Linked DNA regions of Homo sapiens. The protein of the gene in region 5 purifies or fractionates together with the protein of the main gene of each other region. This does not show direct contact. Each region holds a gene or a part of one and is shown on either strand. Other genes may lie near its edges.

Region 1 (6,306 bases), on a different chromosome or scaffold from region 5:
TGTTTATAATATACATCCAGGTATAGGGGAAGAAAATAAAATCTATCTCTTTTGAGACAAGATTAACTCTTTTCCTATTTTAAGAGAAATAGTTCACAAAGAGCTCAAAATAACCCTTGCTTAGATTATTGATGAGAAAAACAAATGCTCTATCTTTGGTCTTGTCAGAGACTCTTACCTTCAGGATTTGCCGAAATTCCTTTTCCAGAAGTTCCTTCAGCTCTTTTTTACTCAATGTGTCAGTGTTTTTATCTTTTTTTGAATATTGCTTGAAAAGATTAATTATGGCAAAGATGTTTTCCAGGAGAGTAGACATCTTTTGGCAATAAATGTGAACCTAGAAAGAAGAAATGAAAATGCACTTTTTTATACATCTTTTTTTCTAGGTTATATTATTACAATCATTTTCCACATTTTAAACCTACATTTTCCTCTAAGTAATCCATCTTTAAGAATGGAAGATGGACATGAGAAACTTTTCTCTACCATCTACATAAAACAAATGAATAGAGTTTTCCTGACTTAAATAAAATTGCCCATTTTTTGGCCTTGTGCCCACTTACAGCTGGACTTAGTAGTCTCACAGACCTCAGTGTGCTCTAGGTAAGATCATCCCTCTTGCTGATCTTGCCATTGCTAGCAACAAGAATTTAGAAAGGCTGACTGGTTTTAAGCAGTAAAATTTACTTATACAAATTTACTGAAAATTACTTCCCCAAAAGCTAACTTAATAAATGATTAATTTGCTAAGACACAATTCTCTGAAAGCCAGTTAGCCATATGACAAGATACTCAATGAAAGTTCATTCAATTTTTTATTTGTTTTTTAAACATTTCATGAAGTTTATAATATTTCATTGTATAGGATGGATTTAATAGCTCTTCAATATTTAAAGAGAAAGGTTTTTCTGACTGGGTTTCATTTTGCCATTTAAGGAATGTTCAGTTTATCTCATTGGTGAAGAAATTAGTAAGCATGTCAATAAATCTAAGTGTGTATTATATAAAGAATTATAACTTTATTAGGACTTACAAAACCAGGTGAAACTAAAATACTGTAGAAAACAATGTGAAGGAGATTACTGTAGCAGTCACAACTAAAACATTTTTGGACCTTGGTTTGTTTGGTAAGAGGAATTAGATATTAATGAATTTTGCTGTGGTTAAGTGATATATGTATTTGGGTAAGTTTATGGGTATTTACTAAAATAATAGAATTTATAATTTCTAAACCATTAGAGATGAAAAAGGGGAATTAAGAAACTTTAATAATTCAACAGAAGCCAGGAAAGAAGAAAATAAGAAGCATAGAAAAAGAAGGGTAAACAGAAAGCATAAAATAAATTAATAGAATTACAAATAATTTTATTATTACTAATTACAATACATGTAAAATAGACCATATCTTGCCAGTTAAAATATAGATTGTAAAGATTGAATTTAAAAAATTACAGGTATATGCTTCTTACAAATGCATTTTAAAGTTTATGATTATTTTCAGCCAGTCTTATTTATGATGATATTGTATTCTCTGAACTTATCGTTACTTGCAACATATGCAAAATCTCTTTCTGAAGGATCTCACTCTTTGACCTTCTCTTGTACGCTGATGTCAATAATTCTTTAACCTCTCTATTTACTGCTTTATGTACTCACTTCCCTTTTTACCTTGGTTAGACATTATGTTTAATCTCCCCAAATGCCCCTTGGATACATCCACTTGTCCTACTTTTTCTTATACCCACTGGCCAAAGCTTCAACAACTTCTTCTTTCCTTTATCTCTGATGTCCTTGATTTTGATTCCTGAGAACTTGGAAGCCATTGGAAAAGAGTTTCCTCATTCTCCTAATATCTGATCTCCCAACCTACTACATTTCTATCCATATACCTTGCCTTCACTTTATTTAGGGTAATAAACAGTCTGTGCTCCTCCTGTCCTTTACTTTGGCACTGAGCCCCACTCTCTCTTGCCTACCCAAACACTTTGCTTTTGCAGTTGCCTACTTTCTCATATGCATCATTAATTCTTCTTTGTCTACTGGATCATTCCCTTCAATATATATTCATGCTGAAATATCTATCTAACACTTACCTTCCCATCTCCACCCCACCCTCAATCTCACATCTGCCTTTAGGTACCATCTGATTTATCTGTTCCCTTTTATAGCAAAATTCCTCAAAAGATATGCCTATACATTCTGTCTTTACTTCCTCATTCTTGTTTTCCTTTACTCAAGGTATTTTTCTTTCTAAAAAATGTATTAAAACTCTCACCAAGTAAAAAATATCCTTCATATTTCCAAATCCACATATCCATTTTTATTTTACATATTACTTGACATATCAGCAGCATTTGATGCAACTGGCTTCATCCTTCTTCAGAGACCTGGCACTCTCAAGTTTCTCCTCCAACCTCAATGGCCACTTTTTTCTTAGCCTCCTCGTTCAGCTCCTAATGTTGCTATGCCCTATGATTCACTCCTTAGCTTCTTTTCTTTATTATACTCCCTCGGGTCATCTCATCTAGTTCTATATAACTTTTTAAATAAGTTGGCAACTCACAAGTTTATACCCCCAGTCACTGACTGTCCCCTAAACTTGAGATGTGTATGTCTAAATGCCTATCCAGTATTTCTACTTGAGTCTTGTAGAGATCTTAAATCTATTATGTTCAAAACAGAAGTCTTGATTTTCAACTGCTTTACCCTAAAAATGTCGCACACCCGTTATCCTCATCAGTTATTCCTGTCTTCCTGATGGCTCAAGTCGTAAACCTGAAAATTAGTTGATTCTCCTTTTCTTACATCCAATATCTATTCCATCAACATGTTTTATTGATCCTACTTTCAAAATATCCCTAAAATTAGTCAGTTTTCCCTACTTCACTCTGTTTCCTTCTCTAGTAGTTTATTTTTATCACCACAGAAACATGCTGGAGTATCTTCCATCTTAAAACCCTTCCCTCGAACCATTATTCCACCCTCCCCCAACATTTCTCCTAACATCTTACTAGCCTAATTAACTGCTTCATTTCACAGGAGTCTTGGAGAAGTTTTCTCTGCTTTCTCTCTTAAAATGTTTACCACCCACTTTCTTTTTAACCTGCTTCTCTCAATTTTCTATCACCAAACTCTACTGAAACTGCTTTGTGTCAAATCATCTGTGATCTCCAAGTTGTTGAATACAGTGTCATTTCTCCATCATTACCTCATCATCATCATCTTACTTAATCTCTTGGTATGTGAAATAGAATTAACCATTCCTTTCTTAATGGAGTCTTTTTTTCTTGGATCTCATGACACCATATTCTTCTGATATTCCTCTTACCCATTGAATGCTGTTGTCTCTCAGTATTCTTTACTAACCTCTCTTCTACTCAATCTCAAAAGGTTGGAAATATCTGTGGCTGTGTCTTAGACCTTCTTTTTAAAAAAAATCTACACTCCTTTCTGAGGCAATGTCATTGGATCCCATCACTTCAGATACCATCTATCTGATGACTTCAAAATTGATACCTCTAGGCATAACCTTTTCTCAGAGCTTACATTCATTCATTCATTCCTTCATTTATTTAACAAGTATTGAACAGCTACTAAAGGGTTAGGCACTGTTTCATGCTTTGGAGATATAGTAGTGAACAAGATAGATGAGGTGCCTGCCTACTTTTGTGAAGACAATAAACAAACAATAAATTAATTCAACAATTAGATATTGATAAGTGATATGTACATAACTAAAATAAGAGTGCTATTATACAGAATATTTGGGGGTACTTTAAGGAAAGGAGGTTTTGTGGTAGAGGGGACATTTGAACTTAAAATGGAAAAATAAGAAGGAAGTAGCCTTGTTAATTAGAGAATTTTAGCACAAGGAACAGTGCAAAGATTCCAAGATGAAAATCAGCTTGTCATGTTAGAGATATAGAAAAAGACCAACTCAGTTAGAAAATTGTGGACAAAGCAGGAGTAATACAACATAAAGTCAGAGATACAGACGGGTCAGATAATGATCTTCTAAATAAGGTGACATTTGTGCATTTTATTTTAGGTGTGATGAGACTAGATGATATTTTTTGGTAAGAGAGTGATCTAATATGGTTTGATTTTTAAAGATTGCTTTGTGCAATTGTTTATTAGTTTCAGACTAACTCTGAATACAACTAGAAAATGTGTGTGTGTGTGTGTGTGTGTGTGTGTGTGTTTGAAGGTATCACAGAGCTATCAAGATTGTGACAATTTATTGGGGCTTACATTCAGATTTAGAGGGAAATATAGTATTTGGGGAATTAAAAGACAAAATTTTCTAAAACTGATGAAAGATATCAAGGTACAGGTTCAAAACGATATTATAAACTCCAAGCAGGAGATATAAAAGAAAACCAAAGCAAGACATATAATAATAAAACTGCTGAACATTTGAGGCAATGAGGAAATCCTAAGAGCAGACAGAGAAACACTTGTATTACCTTCAAAGGAGCGACAATAAGATTGATACTTGTCTTTTCAAAAGAAACAATGGAAGCTAAAAGACGATGAAATGTTATATTCATCTTTCTGAAGCAAAATAAGTTATATGTTAACAGTGAAAATATCCACCAAAAAGAAAACATGTAAAGATATTTTCAAGCAAAGAAAAACAGAGCTAATCACCAGAGACCTACTGTAAAGGAAATATTAAAGGATAATTCTAGTTGGAAGCACAGAGGAGCAAGAAAGAATAAGAACAATGGAAAGAGCATATGTGTGGAAAAATATAGCTAGATATTGATTGCATAAAATAATAATAGTAATCTTTCAGGATTTAAGATAAATAGAATTAAAATACATAACAATCCCAGATAAGGCAGTGAGAAAATGGAGTTAAGTATTGTAGGATACTTGTATTATTTGGGTAGGGGTTAAAGTATTTTTTTCTTAATAATATACCCTAACAAATCAAGGATGCATGCTATAATTTTTAGGGCAAGGATGCAGATAATAATAAAAGAGTGTATAATTAATAAGCTTTTGTATAAAGATAATTAACTGGTAAATATTAACTTAATCCAAAAAAGTCAAGAATAGAAAAAGAAATACAGAACAGGTGAGATAGTAGAAACCAAGTAGTAATATTGTAGAGATGTAAACCAAATAGTTCCATAATAACTCTGAATATAAATAGAGTAAATATGCTAATTAAGGGACAAGGCTGTCAGACTGGATTAAAAAAAACCAACTGTATTCTGCTTATAAGAGACACACATAAAATGTGATTAAAATGATTGTAAATGAAAGGGTGGAAGAAAGAGATACCATTCAAACACTAAAAGAAAGCTGTTATTATTATATTCATATCTGTCAAGCAGACTTTAAGGCAAAAAATATTGCTAGAAGGAAATTTTATAATAATAAAAGATCAATTCTCCAGGAAGCCTCAAAATACATAAATAAAAATCGACAGAAGTATAAGGAGGACCAGGCAATCTACAATCATAGTGGGGTATTTAAATACACTTCTCTCAGCAACTGATAGAAGAAGTAAAAAATATGTAAGAATGTAGAATATTTCTACAAAATTATTAATAAAACATCAACATACATTGAACACTACACCTAACAACTGCAGAATATCCATTCTTTTGAAATTGACCATATACTGGGCCATAAAGCAAGTTTCAATAAATTTTAAAGGGTTGAAATCATAGAGTTTGTTCTCTAACACAGTGGAATGAAGCAAGCATTAAATAATAGGAAGATAACTAGAAAAATCTTTAAGTGTTTGAAAATTAATGACTTCTAAATAATCAATGGGTCATTGAATAAATTACAATGCAAAATTAGAAAATATTTTGAACTAAATGAAAATGAGAAAAATATGAAATAGCATAACTTGTGGAATACATTAATTCCATGCCTAATAGATATTTATAGCCTATATATATATACACACACACATATATACATATATACACTCACATATATATGTATATAAACACATACATATATATATGAATGATATCTCTTTTTCCCATCCTTTCATTTTCAATCACTGTTATCATTTTTTATGTGTGAATCTTATAAGCAGCATACAGTTGTGTGTGTATATATATGTATATGAAAGACTGAAAAATTAATTACCTAAGCATATATTTCAAGAAGTTTTAAAAAGAACAAATTAAGCCCTAAGAAAGTATAATGAAGGAAATAATAAAGATAACTAAAATTAATAAAAGAGAAAGAAAATTTAGAGAACCAACAGTGCCAAGATTCAGCCTTTGAAAAATCTAATAAAACTGATAACCCCTGCAAGATTAATCAAGGAAAGAA
Region 2 (6,306 bases), on a different chromosome or scaffold from region 5:
ACCTATGTAGCGAGTGGCGGCATCCCCGGTGCCCCCATAAGCCACCTTCTGGCCCTCAATCAGGCCCATCACCCTCTGGAAGTGCCGGGCACTAATGATTCTTCCATAGTCCCGGGATTTCTTAGCATCTTCCCCGTAGAACTCCTGTGGAGAAGAGGTGGGGGCTTCGGGTAAGGACGCAGAGCCTCGTCCTGCCCAAAGGCTGCACAGACACAGGCCAGCAGTGTCTGTCTTTGGGTGGTGGGATTCTGGGTGGAGCTTTTTTCTTCTTTATGCTTTTTAATCTTTTCTAAATAATCTATAGTGAGTGTGCATTATCTTTTTTTTTTCTCTTAGAGACAGGGTCTTGTTCTGTTGCCCAGGCTGGAGTGCAGTGGTGCAATCATAGCTCACTGCAGCCTCAAACTCCTGGGCCCAAGCAATGCTCCAGCCTCGCCGTAGCCTTCTAAGTAGCTGAGACAACAGGCATGCACCACCATGCCACCATGCTTGGCTAATTTAAAAACATATTTTGTAAAGATGGGATCTTGCTATGTTACCCAGGCTGGTCTCAAACTTCTGGCCTCAAGTGATCCTCCACTCTCTACCTCCCAAAGTGCTGGGATTACCGGTGTGAGCCACCATGCCTAGCTTGCATTATGTTTATATTAGAAGAAAATAAATCCAGTGTTTCCAAATCTGTAGAAGTTGGTTAAGGGGCCAGGCCCCCCTTGTGCCTTACAGCCTCTCATCCCACCCTGCCAAGGGGTCAACACTCACTTTCAGTGACTTCTTGAGCTTCTCCACAATTTGGTTCTGGATCGAGGGGTCACAGAGGATGTAGTCAGGGGCCACGCAGGTCTGGCCACTGTTCATGAATTTCCCCCAGGCGATGCGTCTGTGAGAATCCCAGACTGGACTAAATCCAAAAGGTTCCCCAGGAGTTGCATCTCGTTTTGCAGACCCCTGAGCTCTCTGGTCAGCAGAAGCCATCGGCTGTGACCTTGCCACCAGTGAGTCCTCCCAAGCGGTCTGCTCACTTCTAGACACTGGACCGAGCAGACCCAATGGCCCTGATCATGTTCACCGGCGACTGGTGGGGAATTTCTAGAGGACGTCTGTTGAGGGCAACCTCCGTGCTCCCTGATCACGCCCTTGTCCTGCACAGCCAGGTGTCACTGCTACTCGGGCCCCCCTACATCTCTGGGGCCACAGATGTGGGATATGGAGGTGGTCAGAGCCCTGGCTAGGGTCAGGAGGTGCAGATACGGGTTCTGCCCCAGACCCCGAGCAGCGGTGGCCCTTCTCCCCTCTGGGCCTGCTCTCCAGAACTCAGATTGCCCTGCCCCATCAGAGGGCTGAACCCAGTACAGTTCCTTGTGTCCTGAACGTCCCACAGCTGCTTTTTCTGCAGCCTCTGCTTGGAGTACCACTTCCCCAGTGATGCGCACTCAGCAAACAGAGCTCAGCCTAGACCTCTCCCCCTCCAGGAAGCCTTCTGGGACTCCCCACACGTCTTCTGTGCATGTGGTCCCCACCCCTACCCCCATGTAAGTTTCTGCAAGGACCACTGCTCCATGAGGCAGGGGGTGTCTGTGTTACTCAGAGTGGACCCACAGCATGAGGTGCAGTCATGTGTGCTTGGAAAGCAGAGTAAGGACTGCTGCAGCCAGCAGGCCCGTGCCTCTCACCGGCAGGCCACGTCCAGGTCACAGTTCTTGTCCACGTAGCAGGGACTCTTCCCTCCCAGCTCCAGCGTGACAGGGGTCAGGTGCTTGGCAGCAGCCGTCATGATGATCTTCCCCACCCCCGTGCTGCCCGTGTACAGGATATGGTCGAACCTCTCCTTGAGCAGCTCCGTGGTCTCAGGGACACCCCCATTGATTACTGGGTACAGATCCTTCCATGCAAGGAGAGAGGGGAGGCTCAGCAAAGACCAAGCCCCTCCTCGCTCTTGCAAGTGTGGGTGAGTTGCAGTGGCCAAGACCAGCAGCCCCGAAGCTCAGCACCCCACCTTGGGCGGGGGGTAGCAGTAACTGGCAGTAGACCGCCTTTCCTGGCCCAGGGGCTCTGTTCACCCCAATGAGAGAGGGCAGCTGCTAAGAACAATCCTCAGCCCCACCAGTAGCTTGGCCCCTTGCTGCAAGAATTCACTATTTCTCACCCCCCAAAGACCTGGCCCTAGCTCAGTTATGAGGCCATGGAGTTACGAGGCCCTGGAGGGCAACTCACCTTGTCCAGGTACTGGGGGATGATGGTAGCCAGCAGGCTCGCCATGTTCTCACTCAGCTCCGAGGGCTTGAGGACCACTGAGTTCCCTGCAGAGCACACCGAGCCAGGCCTATGCCCAGGGTACTTCACCAGAGGCTCTGCCCTCCCAAGGACCACACCTGAAGCCTCCCCTCCATTGTGTGTCCTCGGGACAGTGGATGGAAGAGTTGTTAGCAAACAAGCACATGTCACGGGGCACACCCAGGAGCACGCACGGGCACATGACAGAGGGACACACACGGGCACACGCTGGCCAGAGCTGCACCACCTGGCCCTCTGAGTTGCTGAGATGTTGGAGGAAAAGCAGAAAGGGGAGAGAGGCTCTGGGGGCCCGGTTGGTAGAACAGCGCTGGCCCATTCTAGGAAGGAAGCCCTGATGCATATTAGGTGACAGAAGCTCCAGCCCCCCAACAGGGGTGGGGGAAGGCAGGCCCTCTCTGTATCACCAGGTGTGGACACCTGAGCCTGACTGGACCTCAGGCACCAAGAGGCCTGGCTAAACAGCTTGGTCCCCACAGCCTCCTGTGACAGACCCAGCAAACCCTTATCTGACCCCAGGACTCTTAACACAGGCCTGAGCCCATCCTGGCTTGGCTCCACGCTGGGGGACGGTGCTCCCCCAGCTTCCCTTCCCACAGGGCCATGCACCTGCAGCGATGGCGCCCACCATGGGCTGGATGGTGAGGTTGAAGGGGTAGTTCCAGGTGCCAATGACGAGGACCACGCCCAGTGGCTCCGAGTGGATGTAGAGCTCGTCCTGCTGAGTCTGGGGCGTCTTCTCCACGGGCTCATCCGCGGCCCACTCAGGGAGCTTCTGGATCATGTACTCGATCTCCTCTAGGACGTACACCACCTCCTCATAGTAGGCGTTCCATTCATTCTGCAGCGACAGAGCCGGAGTGAGCTTCCAGGGCCAGGGCCCGCCTGCAGCTGGGGCGAGTGGGGAGCCCCACTGCTCAGCTGCCAGGGTGATGGGGGTCACTCACCCAGCCCAGGGTGGGGGCAGCCGCAGAAGGCTCCCAGGGGAAGCAGAGCCAGGATTAGCCGTTGGACCTGTGGGTCTGAGAGGACCCCTTTCTGCCAGAGGGGGGCCCAGGTAGGTTTGCGGCCCCAGGGGAGAGAGCCGGTGAAGGGACCAGGCATGGGCAACGGAATGGATCCAGGTAGGGGGAATAGAGCCGGGCAGGGGAGAGTAGATTCAGGCAGTGGGAATGGATCCGGGGAGGGGGGGATGGATCCGGGGAGGGGGGATAGATTCGGGCACTGGGAGCTGGATCCGGGCAGGGTGGAGGGAGCCAGGCCCTTTAGTTGTCTGGAGGGGGATGCAGGACCAAGGGCTGCTGGGCGCTCAGGGCCTCCTGTGGGGAGCAGGGGTGAGAAGAGGAGATGCAGACGGCGGAAAACGCGTCTCTTTTATAAACTTGGGCTGTGAAGAGCAACACAGAAGCTGTAAAGTCAACAGAATGGGTTTCCTTGTTGTTTCTGGTTTAAGATGAGAAGTCCTGAGCCATTTCTTGAAAAGTGCAGTAGCAGGCCCGGCGCTGTGGCTCATGCCTGTAATCCCAGCACTCTGAGAGGCCGAGAACTCCTCCTGAGGAACTCCTGAGGGCAGGAGTTCAAGACCAGCCTGTCCAACATGGCGAAACCCTGTCTCTACTAAAAATACAAAATTAGCCGGGCATGGTGGTACACGCCTGTTGTCCCAGCTACTGGGGAGGCTGAGGCAGGAGAATTGCCTGAACCCGGGAGGCGGAGGTTGCAGTGAGCCGAGATCGCGCCATTACACTCCAGCCTGGGCGACAGAGCGAGACTCTGTCTCAAATAAATAAATAAAATAAAATAAAAATAAAAGTGCAGGAGCAAAGAGGGTAGTCGGTGGGAGGATGGGCTCCGGAGCGCTGGACCCCAGGCAGCATGTGGGGACAGCAGGGGGCTGCGAATGCAGAGGTGTCTGGTCTTGCTCAGGGTGAGGGACGGAACAGCCCCTGTGAGAACTGGGAGGGAGGGGAGAGCCCCCCATGCCCTCCGGGGTGCCAAGCTGCTCTGGTTCCTGGTGTGGAGAACCAAGTGGTCCTGCGTGGGGCTGAGGAATGGGGAGGACCAGAAGTTCAGGGTGTCGGGGCAGCAGGAAGTTGAAATGGGGGACGCTGCGGGCGGGACGCGGAGGCCGGGCCAGGAGGAAAAGGCCAGAGGGCGGAAGAGGCGGCGGGGGCGCGCGGGGCGCGGCGGAGGGGAGGGCGGTGCGCCCAGTCTCCGCGACCGAGGGGCCAGGTGGCCCCAAGTCCTTCCTGAACCTCTCTGGGTCGCACTCTCCCCAGCCCCTCCCCCCACGCCCCATCGCATGGCCCCGACACTGGCAGAAGGCGGCCGCCCAGCCTGAGCACCTTGTGCAGGTCTGCGGCCAGCGCGCCCACCAGCTCCTGCTCCTGCTCCTGGATCAGGCGCTGCAGCGCCTCCAGCTGCTGGATCCGGAACTGCAGCGGACGGGTCCTGCCCGAGCTGAAGGCGGCGCGGGCGCGCTTCACGGCCTCGCTGATCTTGCTCATGGCGCCTGGGGACAGAGAGCACCTGCAGCTGGCTGAGGGGCACGAGCGCGCCCTGCCTCCCACCCTGCCTGAATTCTATAGGAAGGGACTTCCCTGGGCTCGGCCTTGGGGAAAATGGCCTTTCCGCTGGAAGGTCCACTTTCTGCCTCGCCTCCTCTCCCGCCCCTCACTCAGACGCCTGGGCCCTGGCTGCCTTGCTAGCCCCTGAGAAGGTGACACCCGCCGCAACCCGAGTCCTAAGCCGAACTGCTGCTGGGGGCTCTTGGCAGCGTGCTCGCGGCAGGGCCTTTCCCGGCCTTTTCCGCTCCCTTACTTGCTTGCAAAGCTGATGGCACAATCCCAGACCAACACCCCCAGAGCTCTGCACACGCAGTCAGCCACTCTCCAGATCAGATTGGAGGGGCGCAGTCCGCGATTCCACACCCAAGCCGATAAAGAAAAACCCAGCACCACCCTCCTGGCTAAGCCATTGTTCTAAAAAGCGCTGGTTTCTTGGCAGAGCTGAACCAGGCTTGGTGTGTAAACCACGCGTGCCACACCTGGGAGACGCACGCCCATGCCCGCCAAGGATTCAGAGAGCTGCAGATTTCCACAAAGAGGTGTGGAGGCGATTCCTGCTACCAATACACGAAAGTATAGTGGCAAATCGGGATGGCCCTGCTGGGGGCAATTTGGCAATATGTGGCAAAAGTTTTTCAAACATACTTCTCTGTGACGAAAAGGTCCTACAGCCTTTCCTAAACATTCACGAATAAGAAAGTCATCACTGTTTTCTATAACAGGGAAGTATTGTAAACATCCCAAAGATCCGAAAGAAAGGAGACAGTTTAAATGACTCCTGTCACACCCACGTAAGGGTTTACTGTGCAGTATTTAGGGATTAGGTGGAGCAGGCTATTCAGCATGTTTGTAGGGGCTCTCTCTGCACCAGGGGTGTCTCAGGCACTGGGGATAAGAAAGAAAACAGGTTACAGGCCGGGCGCGGTGGCTCACGCCTATAATCCTAGCAAACACTTTGGGAGGCTGAGGTGGGCGGGTCACCTGAGGTCAGAAGTTCAAAACCAGCCTGGCCAACATGGTGAAACCCTGTCTCTACTAAAAATACAAAAATTATCTGGGAGTGGTGGCAGGCACCTGTAGTCCCAGCTACTTGGGAGGCTGAGGCAGGAGAATTGCTTGAACCAAGCTGAGAGGAGGAGGTTGCAGTGGGCCGAGATTGGGCCATTGCACTCCAGCACTTTGACCGGGAGAATGGAGCCATAATCACAGAGTTCTCCTATTAGATTAGTGGTAGGAGGTAAGGCAAGGTTAGTGAGATTTGCTAGAAGTCAAGAGGCTGTCAGTGGAAGCGGTATTTGAAGGCCTCGGGTAAGTAATATAATTACTTTCAGCGAGACTCCATCTAAAAAAAGAAAAAGAAAGAAAGAAAGAAAGAAAAACAGAAAACAAGTTACAGAACAACAGATGTACCAGGCGTGTGCATGTGTGTGTGTGCGTGTGTGTGTGTGCG
Region 3 (6,822 bases), on a different chromosome or scaffold from region 5:
CGCACAATCTTCTCAGTGGGATTGGCTGGTAGCCAGACCACCAGAGCAGTGATAGAGGTAAGGTAGGGCACGGAGATCTCAGCCTCCTTCCCATTGGGCAGCACGATGCCTGTCTTGGCTTTACTATTGCCTGCCCACTTTTGCATGAGGAACTGCATCTCCTTGCTGTCCTTGACAGGGTTGAGGACATACATGTCCAGCCGGCCCACACCCATTTTGTGGAAGAGGGTCAGTGGCTCAATGGTATTGCTGACCACACGATATAGAGGCTCAGCCTGGATGCCCAGGCGGTTTAAGTGCTGCAGAGTGAGGCAGGCCTCCTCAATGCTACGCTTGGCTTTCCGGGAGGCATCAGGAAGCCGCAGCTTCTCAGGCACGTTGAAAAAGACAACTCCAAGCTCAGGAGAGATAAGGTTCTTCACCCAGTCGCTGTAACTGCTAGAGCCCTGGGACTGCTCCTCCTCTAGCTCTGCCACTTTGCGCTGCAGTAGTCCATTGATGCCTGGCAGGTTGTCTGCCCCAATGTGTGTGAGTAGCACCGAGTCAATGCGGTCCAAGTGCCGTACCAGCTTCCAAAAACAGGACTTGCGATCAGAGCCACCATCCACCAGGATGTTGAAACCATTGACAGCAAAGAGGGCAGAGTCCCCACGACCACCTGGGAAGATGTAGCAACAAGGCTTGGAGAGCTTGAGGAAGCCCCCTGAGGTGGGGGGCTCTAGTAGGTCAAATGGGGATGGCACGTCCACAGTCTCAGAGACATACTCGGAGAACTCAGCCACGCCGTCCATGGTGGGCAGAGTGGGCTCAGGGTTTAGCCGGAGGTGCAGGGTCTCTTGGGAACTGGATAATCCCAGGTGGCTCCAATCACCTTCCCCTAAGCAGGACACGGTAAGGAAGGCCTGTATCCCAGGGTCTCTATTGCTGAGCAATTGGGAAATCTAGAAGAATAGGAGATAGAAACCTGATCAGGTCACTAGAGTTGTTTTGGTCTGACTTAGATTCAGTACCCTAATCTTCACCTCTTTCCAAGGTGGACTCTTACCTTTCTGCCAGGGCCCCCCATGGTCATGCAATATGAGACTTTCCCTTAGATCCCTCCCACAGCTCTAGTGCTACCCTTTCTCCCAGACACTCTGGCATGGAACTTACCTCGGGGTTGTGAAGGACCTGGGCAAAGTTTTCATATGAGTAGGTGCCACTCTGTAGGATGAGGTCTCCCCCAGGCTCTAAACTTTGCCCACTCAAGATTAGTAGTTTATAAGCTGATGAGCTGCTAAGAAGATGATGAACCTGGAATGGAAGAAGGGGAGTGGTCACAGATATAGGAAATCCAGGGAAAGGCAATGAATGGCCCCTCAGTACCTCAAGAACATGCTCCCAACTTATGTCCCTCATAACACCTCCAGAGTGGGCTGGAGACAATACGTCAGCTTAGATGGCAGAGAGAGGAATTCTTGGCCTAATAGTGGTAGCACTGGCAAGGGTGGGTATAGCACTTGCACCAGGCCTGTTTGGCAAGGCACAGGCCCTGGCCTTACCTCAGAGCTGATGCTGTCTGCACTGGGATTTACCAGGATGATGGTCTCTAGGATCTCACTCTGGTGGCAAAGGGTCCTCTGGCCTGAGGGAGAGATGTAGGAATTTATATTGAGAATAGGTATAGAAATTGTGGTGCAGGAGAGGAAAGAATGTGCTATCAGGAAATGGGGCTTAGACGAAAGAGAAGGTATCCTTAGGCCCTGCCACCTTGGATACTGCTGAGTAAGGTCTAGGAACTGGCTCATCCAGCCCTTCCCTTAGAGGGTTTCCACCTCCCCTCTCCCACACTGGCTGTCCTCTCCTTCCCTTCATCTACCACACCCTCTGCTGCCTGTGCCCCCATCCCTCTGCCTGGAACTATGGCCTCAGACTGCCCTATTGACAAGAAGCTTTTGTCCTTCTCGAGCACTAAGCTCCTGGTGCTGCCTGGGGATGGGGGGCTCAGCTGGAGAGAGGGCCCCTGGGATGATGACCCTCACTTCCCTTTCTCCTTCCTGGCTTGCCTCTGCCCTGGGCTTTCCTGCCCGCAGAGTGTCTAGAAATAAGGAAATAGGAGCTTCTGTGTGGTACAGACTCCCCACCCTTCTTGCCATCCAAGGCCAGAATTCCTGTTCCAGAAGACCCGGAGAAGCCTGTGCTATCTAAATTTTTGGGGTTTTATGATTCAAAGAATGGACATAGGACTATAACTTCATTTTCTGTCCTCTGGTTCCTCAGAGGCCAAGCCCGCACTAATACACATGCACACAATCATATTGTTCCTGCTCGGAAGTTTTCACAACACCCTCTCCAACCTGATCTTCATGTCCCAAAGTTTCAGAGAGGCCAGATTCACTACCCCACAACCTATTCATTGTGAACAGTTTCTTCTCTCATCTTTGCCCCGCTCCTAGGGGCCTCTACCACGGGCATGGGGAGTGAAAGGTTCTTGAACAAGAAACACATTAATAAGGAAGGAGAGATTCAGGGTGTTCCCCAGGCCATGGAGAAAGATAAGGCATCCCCAAATCCCCTATTTCCCTTCTCCAGCCTCACATGAAACACCAAACAATTCAGCAAAGAAAGAAAGTGGCAAATGAGACAGAAGATGCTGAAGAAGAATGCTGCCATCCCCTGCACCCGCCCTTCCTTGCCAAATCCCCTTTCCAATTGCAGTACATAGTGGCATTAACCTCACAGAGCATCCAACAGATGGCAGTGGGCTGTCTGGAGGATACTGGTGGGAGGGTCCATAATTTGTCCCTTAGACCCTCTTCTGTGACCCAGCTCTCTCTTCTTTCTGGTGCTTGGACAAGAGAAGCCTGGGGCCAGGGCCTTTGTTAAGAGGCAGAGCCATGGTGCCAGGATCAGGCAGATCTGGCAGCACAGGGCTGCAGATGCAGCTGTGGGGGAAATGAACGATGGTGTCAGAAGACCAAACCCCATACAGCGTGGGTTGGGCCAAAGGGGAATTCAAGGGTTCCCTTCTATTTACTTGAGAATTGAGGGAACATTTGAGATAAATTCAGAGGACAAGAGCCACCTCAGATGTAGGCAAGGGCAGGGCTTGGGGCAGGTGAGGGATATCAAGGTTCGGGAAGCTGCCAGCCTTAAGTCGTTCAGATTTAGAAAGACAAGAGCTCCCTCCACACAAATAAGGTCATAAATTTGAGGTAGGAGGGTCAGAAAGACAAATATCTATAGCACACACTGATTTGCTTTCTATCTACCCCTCCCTGCCCCCAACCATTCCTCACGGTCCCCATTTATCACCACAAGACTTCTATGATCCCAGTTCCTGTCCTGGCATAAGGTCCTGTTCCTCACTCTATCCCTGGGAGTGGTTCTGACTTGAAATTACATGGTTTATATCCTGTGCCTCTCTTTTTCAGGCCTGGGAGAAAGCCGTTTCTTCTGCTCCCCTGGCTCTCTCACTGAAGGGAACTGACTCGTTTTTTCCTTTTTCTTTAGAGAGGACCATCTTGTGAGGCAGGGACACACAGTGCTCAGCCAGTGCTGGAGTTGCGGGGGGGGGTGGGCTGCGGTGCAGAGGCTGAGCAGGCAGGAGGGCAGGTGTCTCCGCAGTGAGGCAGAAGGGGAGGGGGACCGTTTGGGCAGCTGCAGTTTGCCGCAGTGTGTGAGTGTGCGCGCTGAGCTCCGGCTCCAGCTCCGCCCCCACCCCCCACCCCAGCATGACAAGTCATTTTCTTGGCTGCTTCTGCATGGGGGGTGGGGATGGGGGGATGCAGAGAGAGAGAAGAAACTGGCTCCTCTGTTCAAGAGCCCCCATCTTGGGAAGAGAAGCAGAGATGAGGTGGGGGTAGGGCTGAGACTGGGAACCTGTGGGGTTGACACGACTGGAAATGCAGGGCAGCCGCTGGGGAGGGAGTTCTCCGTCTCCAGAGTGGCCTCGGCAGGGCCAGAAAGGGGGGTTTAGAGTCCCATTCTAAAGCTAGCCGCAGGGAATAGGGTGGGGGAGCCCACTGCAAACCGGTTGGTCTGTAAGGAGGCGCGTGCCACGTCTTAGTGACCCTTTCCTCCCTTCTTTTCCATAGTGTCCCCCACCTTCCCTTACTTGGCAAAAACTCACTGCCCTGCTCACCCCCAGCATAGGAGCAGCTGAGCAATCCAGCAGCTGACACCCAGGGGCCCTCCTATTAGGCACATTCCCATAACATCCCCCTTTCTCTCAGATTCTTCTGCCTCTGACCAGAAACATAGCCCCCAAACTCCTCCAGCATCCTGGGCTGTCAGGCAGAGCCAGTGGCACCACCCTCTGCTGCTGTCCCAGGCTGATTTCTCCCATCCCCGCCCAGCTGGAGAGGTGGACTGTCACAGCCCCTGGTGGCCTCTGGTTCTGGGTCCAGGCTGGGCCCACAGCCAGTAACGTTCATCTTCTCTCTCCATTTCCCCATCCTGCCTACTGCCACTGGGCTAGTTCTAGATGTGCCAGATTAGGTACCAGCACCCTTTCCATGACCCCCATCCCACCTCCCTATCACAGTGTACCCCCACATGCCAAGCCCTTTGGTTCGGTTCTTACCCTGGGGTGTAGGAGGAAGCCTCTCATGGAGGCGGCAGCTCCGGCCTCAGCCGGCAGCTTCAGGGAAGAGTCTGCAGCACTTAGGGTGGGAGTGGGGCGGGCGGTGGGGGGGGGAGGGGGGTGCTTGATGAGGAGGGCGGCGCCAGGGCGGGGAAGAGGGGCTGGTCCGTGACGAGGCACTGGAGACTTAACTGTTTCTTTGCCTTCACGACGTCTGAGCTCCAGTGCTTTTGCTTGGCTCTGTGGGGCTGAGGGATTGTCTAGCAGCTCAAGGAGCCTCTGCAATGTCCTATGGCCCATAGGACCTTTCTCTCCCAACCCTGCTTAGTTAGGAAATATTCTTTTGGCATCAGCCAAAAGACCAAAGCCCCATGCTAGGGCACAGAGCGAGGCTATAGGAGGCATGGGCTGCGTGGGCTCTCCCCCTTCTCTTAGAAACCATCTGCTGCCTCTCTCCTCAGATGGATCCAGGGAGTGACCTTCAGTCCCTGGAGGAGCAGGAGACAAAGGCTGGGGGCCCAAAAGCATGGGGTAGGTGTGGGGAACTGCTTAAGACAAAGGTTGGGGATGCAGAGATGTGCTGCCTTCTTCTGAACCTCAGCACTACAGAAACCAAGGAGGGCAGAAATAAGTCTTATTTTAGGGTTAGAGGGTAGTTTGAAATTCCGGAGTGGACACATGGTCCCTAGCCTGTTGGGGTGGGGCACAGGGACCCTGAGAGCTACATGAAGTTTCATGGGAATGCAGCATAACACAGTAACCACACAGGCACTGATTCTTGGGATTCTTGAGTCATTGGATATGAAGAGACAAGTCCCTGAAGGGACAGGGAGCTTTCTGCCTTACAGTGAAGGAGTTAACAAGGACCAAGAAGGATCACCAGGGCCTCCGGCCCAAGCAAGGTTGTAGGCCAATTATTAAATGTAACAGAAGTACTCTTTAGATTAAAAAAACCCTATAATGACTTTGTAGGGTGATTGGGTTCTTGCTCTCTCCTTGTCTCTTTGCTGTTTCTATATTATATTATTTGGATCTTTCTAATGTTGATCCTGTTTCCCTTAGTCTCTACCTCCATCTCAGATTTAGTAAAGCGCTCTAGGACTCAAAGGAAGAATCTGGAGAGTGGTAGCACTTCCTTCCAACCCGAGGATGCTCATGCTCTTACATAGTCCTTCCCTGCCCTCTTCCCATCCACCCTCCCCAGTTTGGCCAGCTCCTAAGGCCTTCCTCACAATCACAGCCACCCACTCACACCCAAACACTAGCCCCACCCTTGCCCCAGGCTGCCAAGAGTTACTTTTGAAGGTCAGAGAAGCCAAAATAGTCTGTGCTCTCAGCATCCCCCATCCCCCCTTAATTGCAGCCAGAGGAGAGGAGGAGCTGAGTCACTAGTACTCTTGGGGGTTGAGGGGACAAAAGGGGAGCAATCCTTGCTTAGATCCGGGGATGCAAATCTGCGACAATGGCAACAACCCCGTTTGGGTAGAAGCGGCCATCTGCAGAGATACACAGGGAAAACCAGGCTGAGTTCTGAGCATCACAAAAGGGAAATACCCCTCTTCTGCAACTTCATCGTTCTTATTTCCTCCCACCTCAAGCCTTCTATCTCCTCCCTGCTTTCTAGGGCTTTCTGGAGTGTGTTAGGAGGGAAACTTAAGTAGACATTTAGTTTACGAACAAAATAACATTTCCCAGACCAATACAGAGCCCACCCATATTCTCAGCTGCCACCCCCAAGGGCCACACCCTGGGCATGGTGCCAACTCACAGTGGAGTTTTCCTTCAGCCTTCACCCTCTGAACAGCTACCCACCACAACCAACTCTCCACCTGCTGTATTCCTAGGCTCTGCTGCAATGAAATGGTGAGATGCCAAAGAAGAAAGAGAGGCTTGAGCTGAGCTACAAAGTAAGATATGAAACCCTGGATTTGAGACTTGATCCACCATTTTACTAATCATGCTGCTAAACAAGAGACTTAACCTCTCTCAGAGCCTACTTCATAAACTATGAAATGAGTATAATATTAGTACCATCCTCCGATAATGCTGTGAGGTTTGAATTGTATAAAAGATGAAAAAAAAGCTTCTTCATTCCTAGACTTCCAAATCTGCAATGTACAAATGCCACTGGAAGTCTTTCTCCCTTTTGTGGAAGATTTCTGAGAGGTCATCTAGGTGATCAAGGAAATCATAAATCAGGATCTCAGACCAGATCAACTCTGGAGTACTCTTAGCTCCCAGGTAAACCCAGAACTAAA
Region 4 (6,306 bases), on a different chromosome or scaffold from region 5:
CCCAGCTACTCAAGAGGCTGAGGTGGAAGGATCACTAGAGCGAGGGAGGTGAAGGCTGCAGTGAGTCATGTTCACACCACTCCACTCCAGCCTGGGTGACACCACTGCACTCCAGCCTGGATGACAGAGACCCTGCCTCAAATTAAAAAAAAGTTTCTAAATAAAAATAACTAAGTAATTTATTAAATAAAATAGCAAATAAACTAGTAAGTTTAAAGCTAACCAGTTGTGCTAGTAATTGTACAAACAGTAGGTATGTACAATTCTCATTAGCCAGAGAAAGAAATCATACCAAACCCTTGGATGCAACCTTATTCCTAACACTAAGCTTTAAAAGAAATTTCTGTTGGGCATGGTGGCTTGGACCTATAATCCCAGCACTTTAGGAGGCCAAGACAGGAGGATTGCTTTAGTCCAGGAATTCGAGACCACATGGGGCAACAAATTCGAGACTAGCCAAGGCAACATAGTGAGACCTTGTCTCTACAAATAATAACAAAATAACTAGTTGGGTATGATGTTGTGCGCCTGTAATGCCAGCTCCTCAGGAGGCTGAAGTCAGAGAACTGCTTGAGACTGGGCAGTTGAGGCTGCAGTGAGCAGTGACTGCACCACTGCACTCCAGCCCCAGCAACACGATGAGACACCCGCCCTCATCCCAGTATCAGAGAAAAAAAAAGCAATTTCTTAGATGGAGCATTATTGAGGCAACAGAGTTGTAATAGAAAATATCTTCAACATTACCATTAACAGATACAAGGTTTCATAGTATCATTTTACTTTATTTTATTTTACTTTATTTTATTTTTTGAGACAGGGCCTCACTCTGTTGCCCATGCTGCAGTGCAGTGGCTCGATCTTGGCTCACTGCAATCTCTACCTCTTGGGATCAAGAGATCCTCGCGCCTCAGCCTCCCAGGTAGCTGGGACTACAGACGCGAGCCACCATGCCCAGCTAATTTTTGCATTTCTTATTGAGATGGGGTTTCACCACGTTGCCCAGGCTGGTCTCAAATGCCTGAGCTCAAGCAGTCCACCTGCCACGGCCTCCCAAAGCGTTAGGCGCCCAGCCTCATAGTCTTTCTTACAGTCAGTTCCTCAAGGAAAAGTCAAATACCTAACTCCTAATATAATCCAGGAAAACTAACTACACAGTAATTCTCTAAGGCTTTCAAGGACACCATGATTGTCTATATCTTCCTAAATTATAATCCTGGACTGTCCATATTAGATAAAGGACTTCAATCTGGTGGGCTTCTACCTATCTCTCCTATCTCTCTTTTGTCACCCTCCTCCCTATAACTGCACCTTAAACTCTTGTCATTCTACCCTATCAGGATTACTACGGCTATTAATCCCTCTGGCTGAATGCCACCTCACCCATCTCGGGACTAAATTAACTTCTATAACATTTTAAGATTCCGCAGCTGGGCACAGTGGCTCACACCTGTAATCCCAGCACTTTGGGAGGCTGAGGCCGGCGGATCACGAGGTCAGGAGATGGAGACCATCCTGGCTAACATGGTGAAACCCCGTCTCTACTAAAAATACAAAAAAAATAGCAGGGCTTCGTGGCGGGCGCCTGTAGTCCCAGCTACTCAGGAGGCTGAGGCAGGAGAAGGGCGTGAACCCGGGAGGCGGAGCTTGCAGTGAGTTGTGATAGTGCCACTGCACTCCAGCCAGAGCAACGGAGGGAGACTCTGTCTCAAAAAAAAAAAAAAAAAAAAAAGAAAAGAAGATTCCGCTTTACCTCTTGTGGAAAGCTTTTCCTGTCCCTGCAGTCTCTACCTACATGTGTCCACAGCACTTTTTTCTTTTTTTTTTTTTTGCGGCGGGGCCGGGGAGACAGGGCCTCCCTCTGTCGCCCAGTCTGGAGTGCAGCGGCACGATCACAACTCACTGCAGCCTCAGTCTCCTGGATTCAAGTGACCTTCCCACCTCATTCCCACCTCAGCCTCCCAAATAGCTTGGACTGTAAGTGCGTGCCACCATGCCAGACTAATTTTTTAATTTTTTTAGAGACAAGGTCTCCCTATGCTGGCCAGGCTGGTCTTGAATTCCTGGACTCAAGTGATCGTCCCGCCTCAGTCTCCCAAAGTGTTGAGATTACAGGCATGGGCCACGTGCCCACACCACAGCACTTTTATAATACCACCTCAGTGGCAGGCTAGCATGCTGCACTGTAATCACAAGTTTAATCTTCTCTCCACTTTCCTATAAAGGTCTTAAAAACAAGGACCACATATCACCGTATCACCAGCATCTAAGGACAGTGTGGCACGATACATCTGCAACGCTCAAAAAAAAAATGTGTGGGGCGAGGCACAGTGGCTCACGCCTGTAATCCCAGCATTTTGGGAGGATGAAGCAGGTGGATCACTTGAGGTCAGGAGTTCAAGACCAGCCTGGCCAACAGTGAAACCCCATCTCTTCCAAAAATACAAAAATTAGCCGGGCATGGTGGTGGGCGCCTGTAATCCCAGCTTCTTGGGAGGCTGAGGCAGGAGAATCGGTTGAACCTGGGAGGCGGAGGTTGCAGTGAGCCGAGATCACGCCATTGTACTCCAGCCTGGGCAACAAGAGCGAAACTCTGTCTCCAAAAAACTTGTGCAGGTATTTTAGCGTGATGAAAAGACACAATTTTAATATTCAGACTACAAATGGACTGAATGTCCATACTCCATGAATATTTTCTCAACCACGATTCTGAAAGAACTGGCAAACAATTTACCTTTAGCAAGAGCGTAGAGCACTCCTATTCTTGCTAGTGTAGGATGCACATAATTTAGATATTAAGACGAGGGCACCTAAGACTCTCCTTTGGAAAAAAAGTAATAAATTACACTTCCATTGAAAGGTGGTCCAAGAAAACACCTATAGGCAAAACCTGGAGCCACTATCCTCTCAACTTCAAAACATAATTCTGTTCATGTTGAATTGGTTTTAAAGATTCAAGTTTTATCATAGATAACTGAATGTTTTTGCATGTAATCATGCTAAAACTACCGATAAGCTACTATGGAGATGTTCTTAATAAACTAACTTAAAAATGACATGGTCAAGAAAATGGAAGATACAAGTAGTTCCAATCTGTATACATTTTTGGTATTTATAAAAATCATACAATACAATCCACATTTTTTTCTTCCTACAGTTTGCTTCATTTGACTGCCTAATAAAGACCTATACTTAGGGGCACTCTCCCTCTAACACTCATTTGCCTTATTTCATGTCTGAATGAATAAGACCAATTGCATCTTTCTCTCACTGATCTTAAGTTTTTCAGAAACTGCCTAAAGTCAGGGATCACCACTTTGAGATCCAGAACTTCTTACTCTTGTCATAAGATGGCTACTACAATAAGATAGATCAAAGAGCTGTCCTCAAACCAGGTTTCCTCCATTAGTGTATTTTTCCCCAGAACTAAAAAAATGTAAATAATCCTTCCCTACCGCCCCGCCATGACCACATTGTATGTGTGTTGGCAGCCAGCTACAGGTTCCATTTCCCTGGGCAGTACTGACTAAGTGGTTTTGAGTACAATTTCATAGCCAATTGTACCAAGTCCCTTCCAGGAAACATTTTAGGGGGCTTCTGTGGTCCCAACATATTTAGCTCCAAATAGGTGATGACTACCTTTTTTTTCCTGTCCCATTTGCAGTCAATCAAACCATCTAACACTTCAATTACCTCCCTTCTCCTTTTACACTTCATGCTACTTCTTTTTTTGCACTTGCCAGCTACAGTGATATGCATACAAGGTGTGTACATTTTGATATTTCCCAGTACTCTATTCTAAAATCTTTTATTCCTCCACAAGAGAACAGTGAGAGAGTAAGATGTGAAAATCAACAATATGCAATACGCAACCTGAAAATGGTTGGGATCCAGTAGCTAAACTTGCAGAATGGAACTTACTAATGAAACTATGCTTTTGCCAACAGCTTAAATAAACAATCTGTTTAAAAATTCTCTAAAGCACTTAAGACCATAAAAAGGAACCAGCCAAAGGTCAAATAAAACTTTTAATATTTGTGTTTAATTAGGCGTGTCTTGATTTTTCATTTAAAAAGATAACTCTCGAGTTATTTGAAGAAAAAGTCACTAAGGAAAAAAAACACTAACATGTCTCTAAACATAATGCTACATGAAACTCAAAGAAAAAGCATTTATCACGCACCTACCTAATAATTCTATACAGCGTTTCACTCACTGGAAAAGCTTGAAAATAGAAAACTTCCACTTTTTCAACTACAAAAGCAATTAAGTTTTAAATAAAAACTGTCTCCTGTCTATATATATTGCCAAATATAAAAATCACTATTAAAATATTAGCTCCTAAATGATAGGGTTTGAGGAAACCTTTTTCCACAACAGAATTCCGAACTGACTGAAAGACACAGTAGTTGGACTTGTGTTAATCCAAAGATTTCCTTTACTACTGATAAAACCACAGTGGAGGCATAATTTAGACCTAGGCCAAGTGGGCTTCCAAACACACTCCATAATTATTCTAACCCAGTCACAAGTAGCACTGGACAACTACTGTCCTCTGGAAATGGGGAGTCTAACTTTGGTAGTCACATGAAAAAGCAGGGCAAATTAAGTGCTTTCTGCAGGGAGAAGACTCCCAGAGAGAAAGCGAGGAAGGGGCTCTGCCATATTTCATCAGCGTTCCCTCTTACAAACTCATCAAAGCGAAGTGAGGAGGCAGGACAAAACGAACAAGTCAGACTATTTTAATGCATTTCCTAAAAACAGCAAGGGTCTGGCACCGGGGCTCATGCTTTTAATACCAACATTTTGGGAGGCCAAGGCGGGAGAACTGCTTGAGCCCAGGAGTTTGAGACCAGCCTGGGCAACACAGCAAGACCTCACCTATATTAAAAATTAATAATAATAATAATAATAATAAAGAAAAAAAGCAAGAAATCTTAATATGCCACAGACCAATTTACCTGGCTATAAGTGTAATTTTTATCTTAATCACACCTGTTAGTAAAATGGTCTCAAGCTGTGATTGCAGCCATGTAGACAAAGCCATGTGAGACTCAAATATTCGGATATTTTAAATATCTGTAAATTTTAAGAATATGAAAAAATACAAGTATTTCCATATCCTGGAAACCCAACAAGGTATTTAAGTTAGGACGTATGTAGAACTTGAGTTTAGGAGACAGGAATCAACCTCCACTTAAAACTATGCAGATCATGTTAGGGTCTATAAAAAGGAGACAGCTTGGTCACTGAGAAAATTGGCTGTGGATTTCACACCTGGCCCAAATCTCTGGTCATAATTACTTTTGTTAACTAAGATAAGTACCTACTCCGGAAGGCAAATTATCTTTCCACACCAGAAAGGTTTATAAACAAGCCGGGTGTGGTGGCTCACGCCTGTAATCCCGGCACTCTGGGAGGGCGAGGCGGGAGGATCGCTTGAGATCGGAGTTCAGCCCAGGAAACACAGTGAGACCCTGTCTCTACAAAAAATGCAAAAATTAGCCGGGCGTGGTGGCGTGCGCCTGTACCCCCAGCTACAGTTACTCGGAAGGCTCAGGTGGAAGAACAGTTGCAGCCCGGGACGCGGAGGCTGCAGTGAGCCCAGATCTCACCACCTGCACTGCAGTCTGGGCGACAGAACCAGACCCTGTCTCAAACAAGAAAAAAAGATTCATAAACAAGTATGGAATGCTTGAGAGAAACAAAATCCAAGTATTATTTGGTAATTTATATACAGTATTTGTAATGCCTGAGAATTTATTCTAAAGTGACAGCTTTGTAAGAGCAAAGTAAATGTCAGTAATTAATTTAGGCTCTTTTAAAAAGTTGAAATCTTGCTAAATGCTGAAACACCTAAGAGAACTTTGGACTCAAATTAAGGAAAGCATGTGTTAAACACAGCTTAAATTGCTGGAAAATGCGTAAGTTACTGGCAATTATAACTCAAAATAGCTAGACCTGTAAACAAAATTTAAAAACTGGACTTAAATCCTCAAGAACCAGGTTTCTGAAATAAAATTTTATTTTTAAGATTATCGTAAACCTTTTCTGCATACAAAAACTGCCCTCATGCACACCAAGAAAATTCTACACAATGCAATTTCACCAAAAATCGGAATTTTAAAGAAATTCTTGCAGCACGGAAAATGCCATCATTTTTATTCATAATGATTGAGCAAATGAAGTAAATCATTGTTTAAAAGGAGGCTAGGAAGAGAAACAAGTTGAAAATACTCATTTTTGTTTTTTTTTTTTTATTTACAGGATTCCTTAAGTCATCTTCCAATACTCCAGGTCACATGGTGA
Region 5 (5,849 bases):
TGAAGTAAGAAATAACGTCTTTTATGTGACTCATGTGCCCTTTTCATGGTTCACAGTCCTCACCAGCACTGTCTTATTCTTAATTGGAGGAGGCATCATTCATATCACAACTTGTGTTCTGGAAGTGCATTCTCATAGACTACAATGTGAATGGGGATCGTTGGATTTGTGTCATTTAAATATGTACACACACAGATGTCCTGGACATAATTACATAATATATAACATGATGTAATTATGTCCAGAATTTGCTTTAAAGTAAAGGAAGAAGATAAGTGGGTATGGATAATGATGAAAGAAGGTTGACCATGTGTAATTATTTAAGCTGTGCAATTATACATTGACTTTCATTATTCTCATTCTTTTGTTAAATATTTGAAAATGAAAATTCTCAAAAAAATGTTTTAAAGAAAAAATATTCTTATATATATATAAACACAAATGTGTGTATGTATAAATGGAGATATATGTGTGTATGCGTATGTATTTAAATAGAGCTGCAAACATATTGGGGGAAACATATAATGGTATTTAGGGTAGTAATACGACCTTTCCAATGGTAAGTTAGCCAGGAACTTTAAAAGTTTATACCACCTGGCCTATTAATTTCATGCCTTAGAATTTATCCTGTGAAAACATGTGTTGGACATTAAAAAAAAATTTGGCCCAAGTGCTCATAGTAGATCTAATAAATCAAAATAAAAACATGATGAATACATGATTCCTACTTACTAAGAGAAACATTAGAATGATATATTTGGGAGGTGGCCAATTTTTCTTTTTTTAATTCTTTTTTATTTTTTTTAGAATTTTAGAAAATATTGAATTTTAAAATTTTAGAAAATATTACCTTAATGGGGTGACTTTCAGTGAGACATCTGGCTCTAGTAATTATTAGCTGAGAGTAAAAGAGGGGATAAATAGCAACTTTTAGTCCTCACTATGGAGTCTTAGCTTCAATTCTGAAATTCTTGGACACTGTGAAGCCAGTATTATGTTAGGTGCTTCCTCCAACTTATTGAAACATTAAATGATATTGGGACCTGGATTTTTTTATTATTTTATTTCCTTATTACAAGTAAGGTAACTATGTCTTAGAAAGAAAGAATAATCTATCCAATATCACCTAGGTAGTTTACGGAACTGCAGATTTTGTACTATTGCTCTCTATTTCCAAAGCTTATAGTGTGATTGTTTTCCACTATGTTTCTACACAGAAACACTCATTTCAGACATCACAAGGGATGAGATTCTAAGAGAATTAATTATGTTTGTGAAACGTGGATCAGGGCATGCTGGAGTTTGTAGCAAACTATAGTTATCAGTGATTCTAGATGAGCAGGGCTAGTAAAGGCAAAGGATAAAAATCTGTCTCTCTAACCATGGTTTCTCCAAAAAAGGTTCAGGCTGATTTACCTAAGAGTCCATCTTTGTGACTGTTAAACAAAGACCTACATGTCCTGGTTTCATTAGTGAATTGGTTTTTTGTTCAGCAAATATTTTACAGCAGCTTTTACATCCTTATTTCTCAAGCTATAGAGTATAGGATTCAGCATGGGTGTCACTACCCCATAAAACAGAGAAATGAGCTTGTCTAATGCTTGCAATTTTTCTTCCCCAATCAGGTCTTGAGACTTCGGTTTCGCATACATAAAGAAGATGGTACCGTAAAATATGATCACCACAGTCAGGTGAGCTGAGCACGTGGAAAATGCCTTGCGTCTTCCTGTGGCTGAATTCATTTGCAAGATGGTGTAGAGGATGAACATATAGGAGAAAAAAATGACCATCAGTGGAAGAACCAGGAAGGCCATATTTGATATCACCATGGTGATAATATTGAGGGATATATCAGCACAGGCCAGCTTGAGGACAGCTAATATTTCACATGCGAAATGATTGATAATATTATTCCCACAGAAAGGCAGTCTCATGGCAAGTAATGTTTGCACAGCTGAATTTATTCCACCGGACAGCCAGGACACAGAAGCCATCAATACATACGCCACCTTGCTCAGGATGATGGGGTATCTCAGTGGGTTGCAGATGGCCACATAACGATCAAATGCCATCATGCCAAGAAGCAGACATTCTGTTGACCCCATTGCAAACCCAAAGAACATCTGCACTGCACATCCAGAGAAGGAAATGTTTCTTTTCTTTGAGATTAAGCTCACCAATGTTGAGGGAACAGAGGAGGATGTATAGCAGATATCCAGGAAAGAGAGGTTGCCCAGGAAGAAGTACATTGGTGTGTGAAAATGAGAATCAAAGATGCTGGCTATGATTAGAACACCATTGCCAATTAGAATCACTAGGTACATAACTAGAATGAGAGCAAAGTAAACAATCTCAATCTTTGGGTATCCAGAAAGACCCAGAAGAAGAAATTCTGACACAAGTGTCTGGTTAATCTCACCCATGTCATCTGCTTTCAGGAAATCAAAAGAAGATCTAACATGAAATGTATTTACTGCCAAGAAACAAACAGTACAAATTAACTGAACAATCATTCTTTTGACACATATTAGAAGGAGTGCTTGCTTGAAGTTCTGACATCCAGTTATCTTCAGTAATGTGTGTGACTAGAATACAATGAAATTGGGAATGATGGAAGCACCTATACCGCATCGCCAATATGTGAAGATCTACCCACGATCAGACACACATGCAGACGGAACCTTTCCTGCTGTTGAGGACATGTTCCTGAGTTGAGGACACTCTCCCGAGCTGAGGTTTCTAAAACCCCTGGCCAATCAACAACTCTAAGCTTAACATCTTCATTTCATCAACCCCAGCAAACAAGCAGTAAAGGGGGCAAAAGACTACTCAACAAAGACTGGAATTTTAATTCAGCAATTTATAAAGTGTTTAAAATTTCACAGCAACTTTGACATTTTTGTGTGTTTATATTTTTTTCTAGGCCTGATACTAATACCTTATAGTTAGTTTAATTGTGTATTTTACAGACACTTAATAATAATACATTGAATCACATACCCTGAAATTTGACAATTGTTTAAAGGCATAGTTAGTTGTTGATCTCATAGTATCTTGTTATGACTGTTCCTATGACAAGACCATTGCCCAGAACAGCTCCGCATGAATGTGATAGTCTTTGGAGAACATTATATAGTGTCTTTACATATTTTACTCTGTAGCTTAAGAGTCTGTCTTGATAATTTACTCATTTAAATCAACCAATAAAAACAGTAATAATGTTTAAATATTTCATATAAATATGTATACATGTGTATGTATACCACTTTACCATTTACAAATTATAATATTCTTTATATTAACCCCATTTTTCAACTATAAAATATGGAACTTGGCCAAGATTAACTAGGTAGTAAATAATAAAATGTAATGTAAAGCTAATATTTTCGACACAAAGTCTAGTTCTTGGCTTCACTAATTTTCATATACACGTAAAGCATCTAGGAATTTTTTTTTCTTTTTTGAGACAGAGTCTCACTCTGTCACCAGGCTGGAGTGCAGTGGCACGATCGGGGCTGACTGCAACCTCCACCTACAGGCGTGCACCACCATGCCCAGCTAACTTTTGTATTTTTAGTAGAGACGGGGTTTCACTATATTGGCCAGGATGGTCTCCATCTCTTGACATTGTGATCTGCCCACCTCAGCCTCCCAAAATGCTGGGATTATAGGCATGAGCCACCACACCCGGCAAACATCTGGGAAACCTAAAAACCTTCAGATTCTCTTTTAGTGTTCAGGCCAGTCCTGAGATTCTGCATTTCTTGCAGGTGCCCAGGTGACGCTTATGCCACTGGTCCCAAAATCACTTGAGTAGCAAGGCTTAGTCTATACTAAGTTGGCCAATTATCTAGATGTTTCTAATTCAAGCCAGTTTTTTTTGCCTTATTGTGTAGATTGGCAATAAGAACCTTGAAAATGTCAAGAGCATAATTCTTTGATGTTTTACGGAAACTCCAGATTGACACCATTTTTTAAAATACCCTTTAAAAATATTATTGAAACACATATTTTTAAAAAGCAGCATTTTTAAAGTGCCTGTCATTACAAAGTTCACAATTTAGGTAGGGATATAAGAAAAGAACATATCAAAATAATTTACAGTCACTTTCTATAGCTTACATGAAAATTACAGTTTTTCCCAGAAGGAAGAATTTTATGAGAAATAAATTAGGCCAAGGAGAACTCCGGAGTTTCAGTGTTCAGCTGAACCTGGGAGTATGGAAAAGAATTAGACAGGGTTAAAAGAGAAAAGGGATATCTCAAAAGTGAGAAGTTGGACCAAAGTTAGGAGTAAGCCGACTGGCAGCACAAGGGAGTTTCTGTGAAAGAGTGGTGGGAAACACATCTGAGAAAGAAAGCCTGACAGGTGCATATAGAAAGGCTCTAAAATCAGGCAGAAAAAGTGTCATTTCTTTTGGTGGAAAAGAGGTCTATCATTAGAAAGCACAGAGCATGGGGTAAGCACCTCGCCCATTAGACTTTAGCAGTTCTCTAAATTTGACCTCATAGAATATGGTGTTACAAGATTTTTTAGTAGAAATGTAACTCAGGGAATTAAAGCATTTAGATTAGCGGAGTTGTCACTAATTACAGAATAGGCATGATAATTGATCTTTCTATAATCACTACTAGATTTAATTTTGGTCAAAATCACAAATGTAGGTTTTGCATGGGCTAATAGCTTTGAGAATGTTAGCACATCCACTCTTCCCCACACTGTGACTGTTGGTCACATGATAGTCACTGGGAAGTTTTGTGTAGAGCAGATATTACTAGGAGTCAGAAATCCAACTCAACAGAATCTTTACTATAGGAAAAATTTAGTTAAGGATACACAATAGAAATATTTAAACTTTGAAGAGAAAGGCAAGGAAGAGAATATACAATCTCAATCTTAAAGACAAAAAAAAATGAGCCCACAATAGATTGTTAATTTTTATTATTCAGCTTTAAGAAGAGAGAGAAGGAGGGAAACGAAGCAGGGAGGAAAGAAAGAAGGGAAGATGGGAGGAAGGGTAAAAGGGAAGGGAGGGCAAAAGGAGGAAAGGAAGAGAGTAAAGGAAGGAGGGAAGGAGGGAGGGAAAGGGGAGGGAAGGGAAGGGAAGGAAGGGAAGAAGGGAAGGAAGGGAAGGAAGGGAATGAAGGGAAGGAAGGAAAAGAAGGAAAATCTCTGCATTTCATTTATTTAGACAACTTTTATTGTAGCTTCCTATGTGCCAAATTTTGTGCCAAGGTCACATGTCTAATAACAAGCAGAGGTCCAAAGTCCACTCTCTTCATATTACTATCCTGCCTGACAAGTGGCATTAAAATCTATATAGAAATCAAATGTCAAAAGCAGTGGATGGTTAGTGAGAACCACAGAAAAACTGAGGTCACAAAAACAAATTGAATGTACTCATTCAACAGTGCCCAGAGAAAGGAGCAATTATTTATACTACTTCTGACTCCTCAAATGGGGTACAGAAATGGCCATAGGAAACACTGGCTAAGGGACATGCGCACTCTGATTAGCCCTGTCACAAATGCAAAAGGAAGTGAACGGCAAAACAATTCAAATCCACTGTCTTCTGCTCCTGACGCTTTAAATTGGTTATCTTGTATATTGTGAGATAAGAGACTTAGGGAAAGAGCTTGTCTGTTTTGCTCATCCTTCCACACCTAAGTCTAACTCAGGGGCTGCACATAATACATGGGTTTGAAATAGGTGAAAGGTTACTTTCTGGACTCAAGCAATTTCCCTGTGCAGTATTTGTGGATTAATGAACAGGACAACATTGGTATGCCACATTTATTCTTTCGCAGCAGGCTTTAATTTTAAAATATATACCTTTCATTCAGTACGG

The links.
Region 1: the proteins of OR13C3 (region 5) and FLG purify together in Homo sapiens (affinity purification with mass spectrometry; one large-scale study listed by BioGRID and IntAct). This does not show direct contact.
Region 2: the proteins of OR13C3 (region 5) and ALDH3A1 purify together in Homo sapiens (affinity purification with mass spectrometry; one large-scale study listed by BioGRID and IntAct). This does not show direct contact.
Region 3: the proteins of OR13C3 (region 5) and MAP1A purify together in Homo sapiens (affinity purification with mass spectrometry; one large-scale study listed by BioGRID and IntAct). This does not show direct contact.
Region 4: the proteins of OR13C3 (region 5) and PUM2 purify together in Homo sapiens (affinity purification with mass spectrometry; one large-scale study listed by BioGRID and IntAct). This does not show direct contact.

The regions. Positions count from the first base shown.
Region 1 is NC_000001.11:152,315,141-152,321,446, forward strand, and holds part of FLG (filaggrin), read right to left. Parts: intron 338-6,306; 5' UTR 317-337; coding exon 179-316; intron 1-178.
Region 2 is NC_000017.11:19,740,334-19,746,639, forward strand, and holds part of ALDH3A1 (aldehyde dehydrogenase, dimeric NADP-preferring), read right to left. Parts: intron 5,280-6,306; exon of another isoform or gene 4,802-5,279; 5' UTR 4,797-4,801; coding exon 4,635-4,796; exon of another isoform or gene 3,237-4,634; intron 3,131-3,236; coding exon 2,899-3,130; coding exon of another isoform or gene 2,298-2,898; coding exon 2,212-2,297; intron 1,880-2,211; coding exon 1,671-1,879; intron 878-1,670; coding exon 760-877; intron 145-759; coding exon 3-144; intron 1-2. UniProt on the Homo sapiens protein: ALDHs play a major role in the detoxification of alcohol-derived acetaldehyde. They are involved in the metabolism of corticosteroids, biogenic amines, neurotransmitters, and lipid peroxidation.
Region 3 is NC_000015.10:43,515,443-43,522,264, reverse strand, and holds the start of MAP1A (microtubule-associated protein 1A), read right to left. Parts: upstream 4,658-6,822; 5' UTR 4,565-4,657; intron 1,625-4,564; coding exon of another isoform or gene 1,542-1,624; intron 1,294-1,541; coding exon of another isoform or gene 1,153-1,293; intron 942-1,152; coding exon of another isoform or gene 792-941; coding exon 1-791. UniProt on the Homo sapiens protein: Structural protein involved in the filamentous cross-bridging between microtubules and other skeletal elements.
Region 4 is NC_000002.12:20,343,276-20,349,581, forward strand, and holds part of PUM2 (pumilio homolog 2), read right to left. Parts: intron 1-6,306. UniProt on the Homo sapiens protein: Sequence-specific RNA-binding protein that acts as a post-transcriptional repressor by binding the 3'-UTR of mRNA targets.
Region 5 is NC_000009.12:104,534,301-104,540,149, forward strand, and holds OR13C3 (olfactory receptor 13C3), read right to left. Parts: upstream 2,557-5,849; 5' UTR 2,424-2,556; coding exon 1,470-2,423; 3' UTR 1,449-1,469; downstream 1-1,448. UniProt on the Homo sapiens protein: Odorant receptor.